Regions from separate parts of the Homo sapiens genome. Here regions 2 and 3 are each linked to region 1. The links come from fine-mapping of genetic effects on gene expression. A gene starts in region 1. Each other region holds a variant in brackets. All regions are shown on one strand. Distances are from middle to middle. Region 1 holds the start of CD300LD (CD300 molecule like family member d). Region 2 overlaps CD300H (CD300H molecule (gene/pseudogene)). Region 3 holds the start of CD300H (CD300H molecule (gene/pseudogene)).

Evidence for each region.
Region 2: its variant is fine-mapped to the expression of CD300LD in whole blood (TOPMed, PIP 0.95).
Region 3: its variant is fine-mapped to the expression of CD300LD in whole blood (TOPMed, PIP above 0.99).

What each region holds. Positions count from the first base shown.
Region 1 is chr17:74,590,225-74,595,454 of GRCh38, forward strand. CD300LD (CD300 molecule like family member d) reads right to left here and starts at 2,059. Exons shown (of 4, transcript NM_001115152.2): 1 at 1,939-2,059. The coding sequence starts at 1,978. CD300LD-AS1 (CD300LD antisense RNA 1) reads left to right here. Exons shown (of 3, transcript NR_171003.1): 2 at 295-521; 3 at 1,760-3,985. RefSeq lists an enhancer at 1,963-2,092.
Region 2 is chr17:74,557,856-74,563,085 of GRCh38, forward strand. It overlaps CD300H (CD300H molecule (gene/pseudogene)), which reads right to left. Exons shown (of 4, transcript NM_001405511.1): 3 at 4,979-5,042; 4 at 2,316-2,969. The coding sequence ends at 2,846. Among named protein-coding and RNA genes, the nearest start is that of CD300H, 7.0 kb to the right of the region's middle. The variant T/G (reference allele first, on the strand shown) is at 2,679.
Region 3 is chr17:74,567,181-74,572,410 of GRCh38, forward strand. CD300H (CD300H molecule (gene/pseudogene)) reads right to left here and starts at 329. Exons shown (of 4, transcript NM_001405511.1): 1 at 169-329. RefSeq lists enhancers at 1,676-2,406, 2,407-3,136. The variant G/A (reference allele first, on the strand shown) is at 2,603.

The DNA of each region.
Region 1 (5,230 bases):
CTGCCATATAATACATGCCTTTCACCTTCCACCATGATTGTGAGGCCTCCCCAGTCATGTGGAACTGTGAGTCCATTAAACCTCTTTTTCTGTGTAATTTACTCAGTCTCGGGTATGTCCTTATCAGCAGCGTGAAAATGGACTAATACACTGTGACTTCGTTTTCTATAAGTGGGAATAGTAATGGCATCTACCTCTATGTTACTATATTATGTTTGTTATTATTATTATTATTATTATTACCCCTGGATGAATGAAAACTTTAGACTTCATTGGAATGTCTTGAAAAACCAGGGTCACCATGGTGGGAGCGGAAGACAATTTCACCATAAACAGGCAGAGCTCCACAACCCAAGGAATTCCTGGAACAGAAATTGGACTCCATGCCCAAATCTGCTTTCTATGGCATCTGAAGGGAACTAAGAAACTACACACGACCTCCTGGGGAAAGATGGGTATAGGGGCTTCATTTGTTCACTCTGAAAAAAGTTCTACATCAGAATGGAAAGACAACAATTAAGGTAAATATTTAAAGAAAAACTACATCTGGAAGTTATTTATAAGAAATAAGAGCTGGGTGTGGTAGCTCACACTTGTAATATAACAACTTTGGGAGGCTGAGGCAGGAGAATCGCGTGAGCCCTGGAGCTTGAGAGCAGCCCTGGCAACATAGCGAGACTAAATAAATAAATAAATATTAGCTGGGTGTCGCACCACATGCCTGTAGTCCCAGCTACTCACTCAGGAGGCTGAGGTGGGAGGATGGCTTGAGCCTGGGAGGTCAAGGCTGCAGTGAACCCTGATCCCAGCACTGTACTCCAGATTGGGTGACAGAGCACACCCTGTCTCAGAAGGAAGGAAAGGAAGGAGAATATATCTGAAAATTGTTTACAGAATATAAATTTGAAGCCAGGCATGGTGGCTCACACCTATAATCCCAGCACTTTGGGAGGCCAAAGTGGGAGGATCACTTGAGCCCAGGAGTTTGAGACCAGCCTGGGCATGAAAGTGAGTCCTCATCTCTACAAAAAAAAAAAAAATAAAAATAATAATAATAATAATAATAATCTATTTTAAAAGAAAATAAATTTGAGATTGGAAGGAAAAATTTTCTTACAAAGCTTGATCTGAGTATAGATAATATGAGAAGCACATAGATTTGTTACATTTTAACAGAAATGAAAACACTACGTATCAAAATTTGTTGACATGACAGCCAAAGCTGTACTCAAATATAAATCCTTGGGAAAAAGGTTTGATGCTTCCTCAAAAAGTTAAACATAGAATTAACATAGGATTCAGCCATTTTACCCCTAGATATATACCCAAGAGAACTGAAAACATATCTCCATACAAAACTGTGCTATGAAAGTTCATAACATTATTACTAACAATTTTTAAAAGGTAGAAACAACCCTAAGGTTCATTGACAAATGACTGGAGAAACCAAATGTGGTATATCCACTGTGAAATACTATGCAGCCATGAAAAAGAATGAAGCTTTGATTTGTGCTACAACACAAAGTAACCTTGAAACATCATGCTAAGTGAAAGAAGCACTCCAGCCTGGGTGACAGAGCGAGACACCAGCTCAAAAAAAAAAAAAAAAAAAAGTTCTTCAAGAATGGACTCACTCATTAGTTCCTTCCTTCATTGATATCTGTTCATTCATCTGTTTATATGGAACAGTCAGGGTTGAGAACCACTGTTCCAACAAGAAGCTATACTTGTTTTGTTTTGTGTGTGTTTGTTTCTGCAGCATCTAACACAGAACCTGTCAGATAACAAAAACTTGATTGCTATTTAATGAATATGGGCATGGATGGATGAATTGGCGCTGTCATTTTCCCTGACATGTCTCCTTCCTGAGAACAGAGCGTCTCTGTCTCCAAGCCAGCCGCTGTCATTCCAGTGCCTTAAAGCTCCAGCCACACTCACCTGGGAGGATGAGAAGCAGCAGAGATGGGGACAGCCACATGGTCCTGTCTCCTCTCCTCTCCTTGGTGATCACAGGTGTCTGGTGCCCTTCAGGGACTTGAATCCAAGCTCGGAAGTCAACACCGCAAACCTACTCGAATCTCCTTCAAGTCTCTTGCTCACTTCCTGTTACATCTGTAGCTACTTCTCTTTTTACATATTAGGAGAAAAGAGGTGTCATTCTTTGAAAAGACTAAGGTACAGTGTATGTTGCAAGGTGTGCCCAAACTTTTGTGCATGTGGAAAAGAAAATGTGTCCGGGACTGGTCAGGTTTGCACGGGAGTGCACGTAGGAGCCAAGGAGCAGGAGGAGCCAGGAGGAACCCAAGCATTGAGGAGCTGCGGGATCTACTGCCTGGAGGAGAGGACGGACAAGGCCAGCCATGAGGAGTGCAGGGAGAGGAGCACTTTGGGAAGACCACAGTGCACAGGACTCACACCCAGCCTTGCTGGAGAAAGCCCATGCCCCAGGCTTCTTCCAGGCAGCCCCACTGTAAGACATCTCATTGCCTCTTCCTGCCCTGGGCTGTCTGACCCACTGCCCCTTCCCCCAGGAACACTTCCACTGGGATCATGAGTCACTCTGAAGCCACTCTGAAATCACTCTGAAGCCAAAGCTGGGCTCAGTGGGGAAGGTCAGGAATGGAGAAATTGCCTTTTCTCGTTAGCCTCCTCTTGCCCTGATTTCATCCTCCCTATCCCTGCACACTTTCCCCTGGCTGCTGTTGTAATCTACTTGTTCTGCTGACGCCCGAACTGACTTCTTTCCCGGTCTCTCCCCACTTTCTTTAGATGGTCCCTTCCCTCTTTCTCTCCCTTTCCCTCCTGAATCGATTCATTTTTTCTCTCCTGTTTTATATTTTCCATATCTGTGGGCTTTGTTCTACATTTGGGGAGCTTTTTATATTGTTTATTTCATGCTTGTACTTTCCCTTCCAATCCTTGGATCAAATATTGATTTTAGAGACTGTATTTTTATTTCGAAAAGTTTTTTTGGTTCTTTGATTACTGATGTTTTCAAACTCTCTTCTGTTCCTTGAACTATATCCCTCCACTCAGTGGTCACATCTTTGTTTTGTTGTCTGCTTCTTCTATATTATGAGCCTTCCTCAAGTGTCTGCTGATTCTTGGTTATCCAATCATAGTTGAGAACAAGATAAAGTGTAGCTAACTGAGACCTCAGAGTATGTAGGAGTAAATAGTATATAAAATAGCTCTGGTGGCTCATGCCTGTAATCCAGCACTTTGGGAGGCCAAGGCGGACAGACCACCTGAGGTCAGGAGTTCGAAACCAGCCTGGCCAACATGGAGAAACCCCATCTCTACTAAAAATACAAAAATTAGCCAGGTGGTGGCACACGCCTGTAATCCCAGCTACTCAGGAGGCTGAGGCAGGAGAATCGCCTGAACCTGGGAGGTGGAGATTGCAGTGAGCCCAGATTGCACCACTGCTCTCTAGCCTGGGCAAAAAAACTAGTTCCAAAAAAGACACTTGTACACGCATGTTTATAGCAGCACAATTTGCGATTGAAAACATAGGGAACCAGCCTAAATGCCCATCAAGCAATGAGTGGATAAAGACAATGCGGTGTACATATACACCATGGAATACTATTCAGCCACAAAAAGGAACAAAATAATGGCATTCACAGCAACCTGGATGGAGTTGGAGATCATTATTCTAAGTGAAATAACTCAGGAATGGAGAACCAAATATTGTACATCCTCACTTATAAGTGGGAGCTGCGCTATGAAGATACAAAGGCACAAGAATGATACAATGGATTTTGGGGACTTAGGGGAAAGGATGCAGGGGATGAGGGATAAAAAACCATACATTGGGTACAGTGTACACTGCTCCAGTGAAGGGTGCACCAAAATCTCAGAAGTCACTGCTAAAGACCTTATCCTTGTAACCAAAAGCCATCTGCTCCCCAAAAACTATTGAAATAAAATAAAATATAAAAAGAAAGAGAAAGAAAAGAAAATAGTTCCAATTTATCATGCCAAATTGTTTGAACCCTTGATTCTTTCTTGACTTACAAGCTACACTTTAAGGGGCGTGGGCAGAGAGCGGTCTTCTAAACTCTAGACTGAAGAGGATTGAAGTTGAGCTCCAGCATTCTCACTGCCATGGCTTCCCAGATATTACATTAAAATAAAGAATTCCTGCTCTTTTGCCTGGGGGTCAGTGCCTGCCTCCAGGCATTTGGGGTATATGTAAAGATGTACATGTTTGGCCGGGCACAGTGGCTCACATCTATAATCCCAGCACTTTGGGGGGTCGAGGCGCGTGGATCACCTGAGGTCAGGAGTTCAAGACCAGCCTGGCCAACATAGTGAAACCCCGTCTCTACCAAAAAATACAAAAATTAGCCCAGCATGGCAGCGCACGCCTGTAATTCCAGCTACTTGGGAGGCTGAGGCAGGAGAATCACTTGAACCTGGGAGGCGGATGTTGCAGTGAGCCGAGATCACACCATTGCACTTCAGCCGGGGTGACAGAGTGAGACTCCATCTCAAAAACAAAACAAAACAAAACAAAAACATGTTTGTGGAACTGCTCCATGAACAAAGCTCCAATTGGGTCCCCAGTCTCCATTCCCACTTCTGACCCACACTCTTCATCACACCTGCTGGCTCTGAGTTCAAAGCCTCCCCTGAGTTTTATCAGGTGGGTCAATTAGAAGTAGGAGTTGCAAAATGCAATTTATTTTATCTGCCCTTTACTCTGAGGGTACACCCAATATGCCCCAGACCACCATACCCCTAATCTTTTGACACGGCAGGCCCCTAAACCAGTGTAGGGTTTATCTCCCAGCCTCTGGAGCACATCCAGTTGCTAGCCTCTTCTTGTTATCAGGTGCAATTAGCATGATGTCATAAACACAGGGGACTACCTTTATGTTCTGGGCAATGGCTGGACGATTCAGGTTTCTTAGAACAATACTACAAGGAGAAGAAAATTAACACAGTCCTGGAACAAGACTGTGAAAGTATACTGTTGTCCATGCCAAGCGAATGCGCCTGCCTCTGTTCCTCCTTCCTGATGGTGGCGGAAAGGATGCTTTTGCCAGATCAACAGTCACACACAACACACCAGGTTATGCTCATCTATTCTAGTAAACCTGTCACTGTTGGCACAGAAGCTGGAAATTTGGCTATTCCTTTAATATGGTGGTGGGTTTGTTGTTGTTTTGTTTTGTTTTGTTTTGTTTTGTTTTGTTTTGTTTTGTTTTGTTTTGGAGACAGG
Region 2 (5,230 bases), 32 kb before region 1:
CATGAGCCAGAGGACATGTTAGAGGAGGCTGGAGGGGAGAGGCAGTTGTAGAGGGTGAGATGAGAGTTTTTAAGCTGAAACTAAACATTGTCCAAGCAGTGGCCTTTTCATATCCACATCCCTCTTTTTCCACATCCCCCATCGCTAAGCCCTGGGAACTGCTCATTTGTCATCTATTTCTGTACTTTTGTCATTTTGAGGGTGTTATAGAAATGGAGCAATACGGTACGTAAACTGCAGATTGGAGCTTTTCACTCAGCATAACCTCCTCGAGATTCATCCAAATTGTTGCGTACATCAATAGCTTGCTCCTCTCTAGTGCTGGAGTGGCATTCTGTGGTAGGAATGAACTGCAATTTGTTGAACCGTTCACCCCTGAAAGGATGTCTGGCTTGCTTCCAGTTCAGGACTATTATGAATAAAGCTGCTGTGAATTTTCATGCACAGGTTTTTGGGTGAACATAAGTTTCCATTCTCTGAGATAAATACCTAAGAATGCGTTCACTGGATCATATGGTCCTTGCATGGTTGGTTTTGTAAGAAACTGACAAACTATTTTCCAGAGTGTTTGCACCATTTTACATTCCTGCCAGCCACATAGGAGTGATCCAGTTTCACCACATCCTTCAGCATTTGGTGTTGTTAAGGGAGGAGGCCACTCCTCATATTGTCTTATGCCCAATTTCTGCCTCCAAAGAAAGAAGAAGTAAAAACTAAAAGGCAGAAATGAAATCCACAAGCAGACAGCCCAGCACCACACCCTGGGCCTGGTAAAGATAGACCCCTGACCTAATCGGTTATTTGCATAAAAAAGCACTGTGAAGATCCCTGTCCTGTTCTGTTCCGTTCTAATTAACAGTGTATGCGTCCCCTAGTCACGTACCCCCTGCTTGCTCAATCAGTCAGGACCCTCTCATGCAGACCCCCTTAGAGTTGTGAGCCCTTAACAGGACAGGAACTGCTCACTCAGGTAGCTCAGCTCTTGAGACAGGAGTCTTGCCGATGCTCCCAGCCGAATAAACCCCTTCCTTCTTTAACTCGGTGTCTGAGGAGTTTTGTCTGTGGCTCTTCCTGCTACATAGTCACTATTTTTTTATTTTAGCCACTCAGATAGGCAAATATATCCATCCAAATAACTCTCTCCCAGGGCTAATTCCTAGAGAAAGTAAACAACTGGCCTGCAAGTCTGCCTTTGATATGCAAACCAAACCATTCCCTATTCCATGCCCCCACCTGCTTCCTTTCAGCAGGCTCCTGCAGTCTGGGATATTTTCTTTCCCCTGCCCTAAATCACCCCAGGGCCAGGTACCAGACAACTAGAGACCACTCTTGTATCCTAGCCCATCAGAATAATTCAAACTACACACTCCGAAGCCTGCTGTTTGCTTACCTTACCTTGCCTATCACTTCCTCTGAAAACCATGATAAAGGCTCCCACATACATTTCCTCTCTCTCTCTCTCTGCCCCTTCACCCGCCCTCGTGCTTCCCCGTGTGGCCCTACATGGCACACTGCACCTCCTGCTTCTAGGGGTCTTTGAGTAGAAACTTATTTCTTTATGACAGTCATTTCCGTATCTGCATGCCTTACCATATCTGGTTAAAACAAATCCTGGTACATTTTTTTGTTTTGTTTTGAGACAGGGTCTCACTGTGTCACCCAGGCCACAGTGTAGTGGTATGATCATAGCTCACTGCAGCCTCCATCTCCCAGGCTCAAGCATTCCTCCTGCCTCAGCCTTCTGAGAAGCTGGGACTACAGGTGCGTGCCACCATGCCTGGCTAAATTTTTTTTTTAAGTAGGCATGAAGTCTTGCTATGTTGCCCAGGCTGAGTTCAAGCAATCATCCCGTCTCAGCCTCCCAAAGTGTTGGCATTAGAGATGGGAGCCACCATGCCCAGCCTCAGGTACATTTTTAAACATGTCCTCAATACATTAACCTGGTCCCTGAAAAACTCAGAGGGGTCCCATCATATAACAGTAAACCAACTTAAACTGAACCAGTTGATGGCCCAATCACAGTTTTGTTTTGTTTTTGTTTGTTTGTAGGGAGTTCCCTACAATCTACTGTCAGGAAAGGAAAAAAATCCAATATGGTTTATGAGCAGAAGAACTTGCAACAGTATGATTTCCTCTGTGCAGGATTCAAAAACAACCATGTCCTTGCTCAGCACACTAAAGCAAGGGAGTGATTACTCCAAGAAATATTCAGATAGTATTTAACCCTGACAGTAGGGGAAAGACAGTTATGAGGTCAGGGAGAGGCATATGGGGGGCTTCAAACATCTTAATAATGATTGATTTCCTAGGCTGAATGGTGGGTACACATGTTTATTTTTAGTCCTTGAACTGTATAGATACCTCATATACATACTCTTGTGTATGGGATGTATTTTATTTATTTATTTGTTTATCTGAGACAGGGTCTCCCTCTGTCACCCAGGCTGGAGTGCAGTGGCACAATCTCGACTCAATGCAACCTCCACCTCCGGGGCTCAAGCGATCCTCCTGTCTCAGCTTCCCAAGTAGCTGGGATCACAGGCATACACCACCACACCCTGCTAATTTTTGTATTTTTTTGTAGAGATGAGGTCTGACCATGCTGCCCAGGCTGCTCTCAAACTCCTGGACTCAAGTGATCCACCTGCCTTGGCCTCCCAAAGTGCTGGGATTGCAGG[T/G]GTAAGCCACCGCACCCGGCCTACATTTTTTTTTAACTTTTAAAAAGTATCCGGTGATAAGATGGAAAGAAATATGAGGGTCAGGGTCAGAAGTCCTTTTTGCAGTCAGAGGGGCTGTGTCTCTGGACAGGGTTCCAATGGGCATGGGGTGTTGCAAGTTCTCCTGTTCATGACTCTGTCCAAGGAGTCCTCCAAGGCCTGTTCACCCAGAGGATAGCACCGAGTATGCTCAGGAGCAGAGGCACCTTCAGGAGTGGGAGAAGCAGGAAGCAGGTGCTGCTGGGCAGGGACCTGTGAGACGGAGAGAGTGACTAGTAGTAAGCTGCCTTCTCCGGGGAGTCCCAGGCTCTGCCTCTCCCCCGCCTTCCCTCGAGGTCTCGTCCTGTGCCCTCAAACCCAATGTCAGCATCAAGCCTGGTGGGTACCAGGGTCAGGCAGCCCCATGCTGAGGGTCACAGGCTCCTGACCTTCATTCAGCTCAGAATTAACCTTGAGTGTCAAGACCCAACAGATGCCGGAGGTGAGGGATAGAGAAGAAGAGAGATATGTTAACCCAGGCAGGAACTGGCTCCCAGAAACAACTTCCTGAACAGATCCCTCAGCCACTGATGCCCGCAGGAACTCAGCTCTTGCTGGGAACAACCTCAAGGATGAAATACTCCTTTACAACCATCTTCACTCAAATTAAATATGATCACAAGAACAGCTCTTTTGCTTAAACGGCTTAACAATCTCAACCCCAAGGAGTGAACTCTCCAAGCTCAGCCCATGGCCAGTCGTCTCGCTCCGTGGGTCCCACTACACTGCTCCCATTCCAACTCCTCAGATGCTGCATTCTCTCCCCAAAATGGGCCGCTGTGCCATCTCTCCACCTTCCCAGCCCTCTACCTGCAGGGCTTGTCTGATGCCCTCCCTGATCCTCTCTAAGACGAGTCCCTGTAACAAACCCTGTTGGCGCCCTGCCCCATATCACCTTTGCCCACTTGAGCTCCTGGCAGCTGCAGGCAGTCTTGGCCCCACCAAGGATTTCCCAGCTCAAGCTCCCCATCTCTGCCTGAGGTTATCTACAAGAGTGCACACATTTTCCTGTGCAGAGCAGGCCAGATGGGCCACAGAATTCATGCCCCCAGGAGTGCCTGCTGCCTGGAAGACTCTGTCTCCAGTTCTGAGGAACGTTCTACACAGTCTCTCATAGGGTGCCCAGAGGGGTTAATCTCCAGTGACTCCAGTTACTACGGGGATAACCCCTTCATTACAGCACATTTCACCGCCCTTCCCCTTTCCTGGTCTCACTTTCTGCTCTCTCAATGTACTTCTTGAGATTACCTCTCAATAAACAAATTGCTCCTAAGTCCTTGTCTCAGGACCTGATTTGGGGGAAACCCAAACTAAGACAGTCCCTTTGTTCTTTGTTTCTGTGGAACATCTTGTATTTCCTTGATAGCCCAAATCATGCCCCACCAGCTTCCCACACACTCTGGCACCCTATCTCTTTACACCTGCTTTATTTTCCTCCACAGTAATTATCATTCGTTGACATATTTCCTTGATCTATCGTCTCTCTGTCTCTATTACATATCTCTCTCTGCCAGCTATCATCTCCATCTGTCTTTCCAGTCAGCCAGCCAGCCATCTCTATCATCTTTCATATCATATCTATCATCTGTCTGTTTATCTATCTATCCACCTATCTATCTATCTATCTATCTATCTATCTATCCATCTATCTGTCTGTCCACCTGTCTGTCTGTCTATCTATCTATCCATCTGGCCATTGCCTGAATCTACCTATTTGCAACTTCCTCAAGAGCACAATCTTGCCCCTTTGTTCACTGTTGCATCTCTAGAATCTCCATCAGTTTCTGGCGCATAACAAATAAACACCTGTTGGCCGAGCACGGTGGCTCACACCTGTAATCCCAGCACTTTGGGAGGCCGAGGCGGGCAGATCACGAGGTCAGGAGATCGAGACCATCCTGGCTAACATGGTGAAACCCCCGTCTCTACTAAAAATACAAAAAAAAAAATTAGCCGGGCCTAGTGGCGGGCGCCTGTAGTCCCAGCTACTCAGGAGGCTGAGGCAGGAGAATGGCGTGAACCCGGGAGGCGGAGTTTGCAGTGAGCCGAGATCGTGCCACTGCAGTCCAGCCTCGGCGATAGAGCTAGACTCTGTCTCAAAAAATAAATAAATAAATAAATGTTGAGTGGGTGAATAATCAAGGAAACCTGTGTCTAGGAAGCCCCACCCTAGGAAAGAAGCTGCACACATGGCAAAAGACACTGGGACACGTGCATTTTACCCTTGGCATTGGCTGGGCCTGGTGGGAGATGCAGGTGTCTTCACAGAGTTCTCAGTACTGGAGGCTGAGGATAAAGAACAGAGGTTCAGTGCCCTACGCCTGACTCTTCCCAGCTGAGTACCTGGTACCTGCATGGTTCTGACTTCATAAAGCAGAGGACGCTCAAGGAGGCAGCTGGACAGATGTTCTAGGACCATCGTCTTCCAATAGGCAGACCAAAGCCTGACTGGAGTAACAGAGCATCCCCCCAAC
Region 3 (5,230 bases), 23 kb before region 1:
ATATCATTTCTTCCTCTTGCCCCTCGCCAGCCTTTTCTCATGCCTGCCTCACCCTGACCCGCCAGAGCAGACCTCCCTGCACCCAGGACCTGCCCTGCTCATCTGGGACACAGAGAAGGAGCAGAGCTGAAGGCAGCATGGCAGCCCCAGCCCTCTGGGTCATCTCACCAGCATGGAAGTCCCTTGTGGCAGCAGGGTCTGAGGCTCTTTTTCCTTCTCACATCTCTCGTTTCCTTCTCTGGCCTCTTCTGGGTTTGGTTCTCAGAGCTGGTGAGAGTATGGAGGAAGCTGGGGCCATGGGGCACTATGTGGTCAGGTGAAACAATTTTGAGAACTTGCTGAAGTTCTTCCTAATAAAACATGTTTGCATTTGCTGTTCCTCTTTCTGTTCCCAGTAAAGACAATGTCCCTCCCATTACCCACAGCTGACAGGCCTGCCCTTCTCCAAATCACAGCATGGCCCAGGACCAGTGAGACTGGGCCAGCTGCCATCTGGATTTTCTGGGCAGGTCCTCCCCTCTGTGAATGGCCAGTTTTCTGTGGCCAGCATGAGCCGCCCCAGGGTATGGCTCAGCCTTCACTGGATGGATGAGACTGGCTATTTGCAGAGCCCAGTGTAAAATCAAACCTAGGTTTCCAAAATTATTAAGAATTTCAAGATGGTGACAGCCAAGCATGAAACGTGGGACCCTTCTAAGAGCCGGGCCTGCGAGACTGCACAGGGTAGGGGCACACCCACGATGCCCGCTGGTCTATCTCTGATCCTTGGTGGTACAGATAGGCTGGGTGCAACCTCAGAGGCTCTGACCTCTTAACCCCTCACTCTTGCTCTGACCTCAGCAGACCCCAGAGGTCCCTGTCTTGGCCACGTGCCTGACTGTTTCCACAGACCTGGCACCACGCAGAGCTTGGTGGACCATCTATAAGCCTTGCTTTTGACCTGTGTGGCTCTTCCTGTCGCCCAAGATGACCACATATAAGAGTTTCAATATATCAAGAGCTAACTCGGGGGAACCTGGCCAGAAGTGTGCCTGATATACACAGAATGGCTGTGGAGGATTTATAAATGCAAGCACAGCTTCAGAAGGCCTCACTCAGGGACTTAGATTTCTGGAACTAGGAGACTCCAAATTCCTGGCATTCTGTTATCAAATGTCTCCTCCTTGGTGTTTCAGTAAATGTGTTTCCTGCTTGTTCATTTTTTGCTGCATGTGGAGTCCTCATATTTCTGTGTGTGTTCACATGTGTGTATATGGGTGTGGTATGAGGGATATATGTGTAGTGTGTGTGGTGTGGGTAGTGTGTGTAGTATGTGTGGTATGTGTGTATGTAGGTACATGTGATGTATGTGCATGGTGTGTGGGATGGTGTGTGTGTAGTGTGTGTGTATGTGTGGTGTGAGTGGTGTGTGTGAGATGTGTGTAGTGTGTGTGTATGTGTGTGGTGTTTGGGGTCGTGTGTGTGGTGTGAGTGGTGTGTGTGGTGTGGGTGGGATGTGTGTAGTGTGTGTATGTGTGTACATGTGGTGTATGTGTGTGATGTGTGGGGTGGGGTGCATGTAGTGTGTGTGTTTGCATGTGTGTGTGGTGTGTGTGCACAGGTGGTGTGTGTGTAGTGTGTATGTGTGTGCACGTGTGTGGTGTGAGATGTGTGTACATGTGGTGTATATGTACAGTATGTGGGGTAGGGTGTGTGTAATGTGTGTGTGGTGTGTGTGATGTGAGTGGTGTGTATGAGATGAGATGTGTGTAGTGTGTATGTGTGTACGTGTGTGTGGTGTGTTGGGTGGTGTGTGTAGTGTGTATATGTGTGCATGTGTGGGAGTGTATGTGGTGTGTGCGTGTCCATGTGTGGTGTACGTGTGTGGTATGTGGGGTGGTGTGTGGTGTATGTGTGTGGTATGTGGGGTGATGTGTGTAGTGTATGTATGTGTGTGCATGTGTGGGCGTGGAGGGTGTGGGTGGTGTGTGTGTACATGTGGTGTATGTGTGTGGTGTGTGTATGTGTGTGCATGTGTGGGGGGTGTGGGTGGTGTGTGTCTACATGTGGCGTATGTGTGTGGTGTGTGGGGTGGTGTGTGCATGTGTGGGCGTGGGGAGGTGTATGGGTGTGTGTGTGTGTACATGTGGTGTATATGTGTGGTGTGTGGGTTGGTGCGTGCATGTGTGTGGAGGGGAAGCAGGAGCTGGGAGTGATAAAGATGTCTCCCCTTGCAGCCTGCAGAGCCGGTTGCGAGCCCCGCCCTCTGTGCCTAGCTCTGGGCGCTAAGGAAAGGCTTGCCTGGCCCTCCCTGACTCTGCGTCAAGGGCTGCTCAACGTGCCTTTCTTGGGAAGAAGGGATCTGAGTCTGTGAAGGAGATGACGCACAGCTGCAGACTTTTCCAGAAAACATTCTCGCCATCCTTGTCTGGACAAACCACCGGGTGCACAGGGTTGTATTAGTCAGCTCTTTCTGGCTCACATTGCCATAGCAAAACTCCTAATCCCAGCATGCTGTAACCACAGAAGCTTGTTTCTCGCTCGTCTATACGCAAGCGGTGAGTCAGCATTGCTTGGGCACCAGGCTGCGGAGCCCAGTCCGCTAGAGGAGAGGGAAGGCACC[G/A]GGTGGCTCTCTGAGCCTCTGCTCAGAAGGCGCACATGCGGCTCCTGCTCACCGTTCATCGTCATAGGGTCAAGCCTGAAGTCAGTGGGAAGGAGAAGCACAGTCCTCTTACAGGACAAGGCGGCAAGTCACTGACCACAACCACAGAACCCACTACTGGAGGTTCCCTAACCGGGCTGGAAGGGTGCCCCGCAGCACACCGACTCCGTGCTTCTCGCTCATCCAAGGTCGGGGCAGGGAGAGGCTGCAGGGTCTGCTTAGAAACAGCCTGTGTGTGTTTCATTTTTTTAGCTAGGACCAGACAGTTTGCCAAATGCAAAGGACATGGCAATGCCACAGGGAACCCACCTTTGAAGCAGATGTACTCTGGGCCCTGGAGTCCCCCAGGAGATGACAAATTCCTTGAAGAGATGACCCACATCTGGGACATCCAGGCTTTTTCCATGTCAAGGCCAGCATCTGGAGCCGCTGTCCCTTCCCCAGCAGGCCCTTGTCCTTCTGTCTCTGAAACCTGTCCTGGAAAATGCTGTCCGCTCCAGGAGGGCAGAGCTAGGGGAGGACTGAGAATAATGAACACTGGCCATGAGGCACAGGAGGGCGGGGAGCCCGGGGCCCTGCCTGGCACTGCACCACACTGAGACCCCCACCATCGCTGCCCTTGAGGGACAGCTCTTGGGGCTTCCAGAAAGTTAAGATCTCATCAGTGAGGGGTGCGTTCTTAGGGCAAACTCGGGGCATGTGATGTGTAGGACAGTGTGAGTAGCCCACACATTTCTCTCTGCCTTTCGGGGCTGTGCTTGTCTTTCTGCTTCCTCGAAAACCGTCATCCTCCCTTCTCACTCTCCCAGGATGAGCTCAGACCACACCTCTCCTGGAAGGCATCCCTGCCTGCTCCAGGCCTTCCAGACCCCTCCCTCTGGGGTTCCTGTTACCTGCAATGCTTATTTCTGTATTTAATCTCATGTCCCTGTGCTGTCATTGTCCTGTTGCATGGCATCCATTTCCAGGTGAGGCTGTAGCCTCCACAAAGGCAGGACCAATCTGGGCACCCGGAGACGCAGACAGAGCTCGGCCCCAGCCTTGTGAGCTGAATTGGAGGGTGAGAGCTCCGATCCTTCCATATTTTCCAGGGGAGGGGATCAGGAATGTATTAAGGCATTGGGCCTCTCTTCTCTCACCTCTACTACCCGACGTCAATCCATTTGGGGAGTAGTTCTCAGTATCTTGTGCATCATGGTGAGAATGGGCAAGTGCCCAAGGATGGTGGACCCCACTGCCCACTTTCTTCCCTCCCCACTGGCACTCAAGGGAGACGTCACCAAGAGGGCAGCCTCCTGACCGGCTCTGGGCAATGGATGCCTCTTTGGGATCTTGTTACAAATACAGGGCTCTCTAGGGAGCAGGGTGTGGGGAGGGTCTTCCCAACATGGGGGCTGGGGTGCTATAGGGAGCCCGGCTCAGAGAGGGTCTCTACCTGACTCTGATGATGTGGGCCATGTAGCACAGTGAGGAAGGTTCTGGCCATAAGCTGGGAGCCCTGGCTCAGATTTTAAGGTCTGCTGTTCACTAGTTATATGACTTTAGGCAAATCAGCAAAAGTCTCTTAGCATCAGTCTCCTCATCTGTGAAATAGGAATAAAAATATTCACCCTGCTCAGTCCCAGGAGTTGAGCAAAGGCATTTGAAGGTGGTGGCATCCCTCTGGGAAACTTTCCTCTTTTGATCTTCTACGTACCATGCACTCTGTATATTTAAATCCTGCATACCCATCCCAACACCCCTGCCAGGTCACTTTTAAATAAGATGACTGGAGCTGGAAAGACGAACTAAACTGTCATGATGGGAAGTGGGGAGGTCAGGATTTGAACCCAGGTCTTCGGTGGGGTCCCACCTCTGGCTCTCATGATGCAAGGTACGGATTGCAACACTCAGGCAGGGGTGAGATGGGTTGAGAGATGGCAAGTGGAAGAGGCCTCCAAGTCTTATTTCATTCAATATCTGTTTGCAGAATAGCAGGAAGTATCTTCAGGGGAAATTAACAACACAACAAAGTCTGCTTCTGGGTGTCTGCTATGGATTGATGAGTTCCCCCAAAAATTCATATGTGGAAGCCCTAACCCGTAATGTGGTGATATTAGGAAATGAGCCTGTGGGAGGTAATTAGGGTTAGATGAGGTCATGAGGATCAGGCCTTCATTGTGGGATTAGTGCCCTTATCAGAAGAAGAAGAGAGATCTCACTTTCTTTCTTAGTCCATTTAGGCTGCTATTTTAAAATACCATAGACTGGGTGGGTTATGAACAACAGAAATGCATTACTCACAGTTGTGGAGGCTGGAAAGTCCAAGATCAAAGTGCTAGCAGATTCAGTGTCTGTTGCGCACTCACCTTCTGGTTCATAAAGAGTACTTTTTTTTGCTGTGTCTTCACATGGTGGAAGGGGCAAGACAGCTCTCTGGGGTCTCTTTTACAAGGGTACTAATCCTGTTCATAAGGGTTACACCCCCACAACTGAATTATCCCCAAGGATCCACCTCCTAATACCAACACACTGGGAATAAGTTTCAACACATGAATTCTGGAGAAACACAAACACTCAGACCATAGCACTCTCTCTGCCATACGAGGA